Regions from separate parts of the Homo sapiens genome. Here region 1 is linked to region 2. The links come from fine-mapping of genetic effects on gene expression. Tissue or cell type: whole blood. Region 2 holds a variant in brackets; the other region holds the start of a gene. All regions are shown on one strand. Distances are between the middles of the regions.

Region 1 (2,655 bases), 140 kb before region 2:
AAGTGCTTCAGGGACCAAGATTTTATTATTCTTTGGTGATGAGAGTTGTGATCCTGCATCCCTGATTTAGAGCCACTTAGGGCTCCGACAGCTCCACCCCGGTGTTCTAGAGGAAAATCTTCCTTCATGCTCTCTGCCTGATTTGAAAGCAACACAGCTTCCCGATGTTCCTCCTGGGAGGTGGTTCAATCTTTAGAAATTGCCTAAGAAGCCTGTCCATCTGCTGGAGTGCCTGGCTTTCGGGAACGGACCAAGACGGACTTGGCTTTTAATCTGAAATAATTTGAGGATTTTCTGTCTATAACTTAAAATCACCGCTTAACTCAAAGTAAAAAAGTGACACGCTCTCTAGAGGGCTTTTGTAGACATTGGGAAAATCCGTATGACGAAGTACGGTTTAGAAATTCCGGATTTAATTTCCCCCGGGAAAAGCAAATATCTTCTGTTGGTACCGGGCAGTCGACTCACGTAGTCTTCCTTTAAAACCAAGTCTATGCCAGCCGGGTGTGAGGGGAGTGGTGGGGGTGAGCAGGGGGAGGAGAGAGATTCGAAAAGTACAGGAGGAATCAGTCCAGTACAGGGGTTGCCCCTGCCAACAAGTAGCTATTCCTGTTAACTCCCAAGAAGCAAGTTTCCACCTTTGCCACTTCCTCCTGCCCTTTCCTTTCCTTTTCCCTTCACTCCCGCTCTTGGACCCAAGGTTCGCTCCCCACCGCCACCGCCCTGCCCCACTATTCTCTTTACAGGACAGAAGGCTGCAGCAGCACGGCGGAGAAAAATCTCTGAGGAATGAGTCAGTGGGATGGGCGTATGGGTGGAGGGAGAGGGCAGTCGATTTTTAAACCTCAGCGAGGGTGGGTGGGCAGTTGGAAGCCAGAGGCCTTATCACTGGGGCGCTGCAACATCACAGAAAGTGTTAGTCCCAGGGCTCTCCCTGGCGCGCGCGGCTCCTGTGCTTGCTTCTTATTGGCGGACCTGGCCCTGGGGGCGGAGCCGCGGTGAAGCACCGCTCATCCGGGCTCCAGGACCGGGGCACGCGGTTCTCCCTGATCCCGGAGCTGGGCTCAGGGCTCGGACTCAGTCCTGCAGCGCCTCTAGGCTGCGGATCCGCGCTTCAACCACCTGCTTTGCGCTGCGTCCGGGGAAGTGGGGAGGAGACGGGAGGGAGGGAGGAGGCGGGGAGAGGAGGAAAGAGGCAGCTTACACACGCCTTCCAGTCCCTCTACTCAGAGCAGCCCGGAGACCGCTGCCGCCGCTGCCGCTGCTACCACCGCTGCCACCTGAGGAGACCCGCCGCCCCCCCGTCGCCGCCTCCTGCGAGTCCTTCTTAGCACCTGGCGTTTCATGCACATTGCCACTGCCATTATTATTATCATTCCAATACAAGGAAAATAAAAGAAGATACCAGCGAAAAGAACCGCTTACACCTTTCCGAATTACTCAAGTGTCTCCTGGAAACAGAGGGTCGTTGTCCCCGGAGGAGCAGCCGAAGGGCCCGTGGGCTGGTGTTGACCGGGAGGGAGGAGGAGTTGGGGGCATTGCGTGGTGGAAAGTTGCGTGCGGCAGAGAACCGAAGGTGCAGCGCCACAGCCCAGGGGACGGTGTGTCTGGGAGAAGACGCTGCCCCTGCGTCGGGACCCGCCAGCGCGCGGGCACCGCGGGGCCCGGGACGACGCCCCCTCCTGCGGCGTGGACTCCGTCAGTGGCCCACCAAGAAGGAGGAGGAATATGGAATCCAAGGGGGCCAGTTCCTGCCGTCTGCTCTTCTGCCTCTTGATCTCCGCCACCGTCTTCAGGCCAGGTGAGCAAGGGCCTGGGAGCAGCCCCAGACAGACGTGGGCCTGGAGCAGTTTCCTAGGTCCCCGTCCCAGCCTCGCACCCCCGAGGCAGTGCGCCCAGGCGCGTGGTGGAGGTAAGGGGACCGCTGTCCTGGCACAGAGCTGTCCCCGGGCTCGGTCACCTGTGCCGCACGTTTGGGCTTGGCTGGTTAGCTCAAGTTTGGGCATCAAGCTGGGGAAACTGGGTGAATCTCCAGGAACTTGGTGCTCCGGGGTGGGCAGGATTCGCCTGACGCTCTCCCCTTGTCCCTGCGGCTCCCAGCTAGGCGGCGGACTCTTGCCCTCTGACAGTTCCTCCTGTCTCTGGGTATCCAAGTCCACGTCACTGCGCCCCGAGCAGTTTTTCTTTCGCTTAGTTCTCGGATGAAATAACTGCCGGCACTTTTTCGTGATAAATCCCCTAGTAACTTCCCCTTGGTGAGCCGAGGAAGGGATGGGAGGGGTAGAGAAGGAGAGGACTTTAATCACCTCCCCCCGCCCCCCTTGCGAAACCTGCTAAAGCTTAAAATCGTGGTTTCAACGTTACCCCCTGCGGTCCCCGTCCATTGTCTGGGCGGGTGGTGAGTGAAAGGGTGACCGCAGGCAGATAACACAGCCAGAACAGGAATTAGTAGGTAGGCCTGGGAGACACCTCAGTGAGAGGTTTGTGAATTTCCAGGACCTGCTCATAGAGCCTCAGTTCTCAGTTCTGTACTGAGTCTTGGAAGAGAGAGAGAGAGAGAGAGAGAGAGAGAGAGAGAGAGAGAAAAGGCAAAATTCCCAACAACTAAAATATCTCTCGGGAAATCCCTTTCCACACCCTCGGGGACGTCCCCTG
Region 2 (2,846 bases):
AAATGTTTTAAATTGATTCTAGGGGTGGTGTTCTTATTAGCTGTTGTAAATACACAGAGAGGTAGAATTGTAGCTGAAGAACACACACTTATAGCATATTTTTGTAGGACTCAGGTGGGAATGAACTTGAAAATTACCATTGGATTTTCAGACAGTAATACAAAGTATTTCAGTCTTTTCCATGTGGTTTGTTTGTTTGGTTTCCAATTAATTACTTCCTGGGGGAAGCATTGGGAGTTGTTTCAGTTATAGATTCATAACAAAATGAGATTCATAAACTAAATACATGATATAATCTGAAGCCCTGCTAGGACTCTTACAGCTCGTCTTTATAACCTAGTATTCCTTTAATGAGTAGGAACAGTGAACTTTTTTTTAAACCCAAATGACACTATTGTCTTTAAAAGCTGTTAAAAATAGCAGAGCCAAAGACGTAATATTATAATATTCAGTTAGGGGAATTTTGAGTGTCATTATCTCCCTAAGCAGTAACCATGAACAAATTATCAAAGCCATTGTCTCTTTTAAAATGGAAAGATGAACCAAATGTATTAGCACCTCAGTGGGATTGGGAATATGTGAAAAACATAATCATAAAACAGCAATTGCTAAGCCTCTACTCAAGACACTCTTGTTCATCAGAGGTTTTGGTGCTGTTGGAAAGTCAGCACCTGCTGAAATCTGCCTGGGGATTCAGCTGCCTAGACTGGAATCACCTCTGCTAATGGATGCCAAAGCTTTGCCCTTGAAGATGTTTGTGTCCTTCCCTCTCCCTATACCAGTGGAATTTAGATGAGACTGTCTAAATGTAGAATATATTGCATAGGCTGAAGAAATTGTGTGTATCACTTGTTTTTAATTAATAGACTATTTTTATCTGTTCTTAGTTTATGGAAAAATTTGAGTGGAAAGTAAAGAGCTCCTATATAGGCCCGCAATTCCCTGCCTCCCCACCCCCTTGCCCCTAGTTTCCCCTATTATTAACATCTTTGCATTAGTGTGGTACATTTGTTGCAATTGGTGAGCCGATGTTGATACATTATTATTGACTATAGTCCCTAGCTTACATTAGATTTTCCTGTTGTGTTGTACATTTTATGGGTTTCGACAAACACTTAATAATGTTTATTCATTATCATATCAGAATAATTTCACTGCCCTAAAAATGTCCTGTTCTCCGTCTATTCATTCTTTCCTCCCTCCCTTGAGACCCTGGCAACCACTGGTCTCTTTACTATCTCCATAGTTTTGCCTTTTCCAGAATGGCATATAGTTGGAATCATACAGTATTTAGCCTTTTCAGACTGGCTTCTTTTACTTCGCAGTATGCATTTCAGGTCCCTTCGTGTTTTTTTCATGGCTTGCTGGCTCATTTCTTTTTATTGCTAAATAATATTTCATTGTCTGGATTACCACAATTTTTTCATTCATCTGT[T/C]GAAGGACATCTTGTCCAAGTTTTAGAAGTTATAAGTAAAGCTTGTATAAACATTCTTGTTCAGGTTTTTGTGTGGACATAAACTTGCAACTCATTTGAAAAGTCGTTAATTGTGAAAAGTGTTTTTGACAGAGAGGAAAGACACAGGTCTTTAAGTTAGAAAGACTTTAATCTCAACCTTGCCATTTTAGTCATTCAGTACGTTTTTATTGGAGGTCTACTGTGCTACCCCTGCCGTTTTTGGTGTTAGAAATGCATATAGGGCTCCTCTGCCTGTAACCTGAGTGCCCCACCTACATTAAAAAGCCTCATTAGACTTCTGGTTCCTGATCTGAAAGATGCCTATCTTCTTGAATATTCATGATTTTCTATTTTATTTTGAAAATTAGAACAGCTGCCACGGACAGGACTTGTATTTCCTGGGAGCAAGTGCCAAATTGCTACATAGCATCCCATTGAGAAAGAAGTGATAAAATGTGTTAGTTCATTTTCTTTCTAGTCCTTCTAACCTATATGTTTTTTAAAATATTTGTCTAAATATGAAAAGCATTTTAATACTTTCCAAAACAATATTCTTGAATTATCCACAATATAAAATGAAATAAGGACATGGAATCATTTTTTGTATATCTAATAGTGATGAGAATTGGACTTGAGCTGAGAATTCATTTTGAGCTCTATCTCCATCACATACTGGCTTCGTGATATTGGCTTATTCTCTTGACTTTGCAGGGAGAACAGTTTCCTATTGGTAAAATGAAGGATAATAATATTTGTTCATCATACAGGTTTCTTTGCTTATCATACAGGACTTTTGTGAAGCCCAAATGCAAAAATGTACAATGTATATAAAAGAATGTTGCAAACTATAAAACACCATAAAAACATTCAGTATTATTACCAATTGCTTTAATGTATTTCTAGGTCTATTTAATCTTTTATTGTATATATTTAATCTATACAACATGAGGTTTTGATATACATATGCCTTGTGAAATGATGACTACAGTTAAGCAAATCAACATATCACTCTCCTCACATAGTTATCATTTTTTGTGTGTGATGAGAGTACCTGAAATCCACTCTCTTAGAAAATTTCTACTATACAGTACACTATTATTAACCACAGTCATCATGCTGTACTTTACATTTCTAGTTGTGTCCTATACAGTTGTAACTTTGTAGCCTTTGACCAACATCTCCCCACTTCTGACATCTTCCCACCCCTGGTAATCACCATCCACTCTCTGTTTCTGTGTATTTGCCTTTTCTAGATTCCACATATAAGTATGATTATGTAGCATTTGTCTTTCTTTGGCTTATTTCAATTAGCATAATGTTCTCCAGGTTCCTCTGTGTTGTCACAAATGGCAGGGTCTCCTTTGTTGAGGCTGAGTAATATTTTATTGTG

Evidence for each region. PIP is the estimated chance that this variant, and not a neighbour inherited with it, causes the effect.
Region 1: ALCAM starts here. The variant in region 2 is fine-mapped to the expression of ALCAM in whole blood (INTERVAL, PIP 0.99).

The regions. Positions count from the first base shown.
Region 1 is chr3:105,365,681-105,368,335 of GRCh38, forward strand. ALCAM (activated leukocyte cell adhesion molecule) reads left to right here and starts at 1,229. Exons shown (of 16, transcript NM_001627.4): 1 at 1,229-1,801. The coding sequence starts at 1,729. RefSeq lists silencers at 1,174-1,273, 1,604-1,723.
Region 2 is chr3:105,506,234-105,509,079 of GRCh38, forward strand. The region is part of intron 1 of ALCAM (activated leukocyte cell adhesion molecule); the gene reads left to right. Among named protein-coding and RNA genes, the nearest start is that of ALCAM, 140 kb to the left of the region's middle. The variant T/C (reference allele first, on the strand shown) is at 1,436.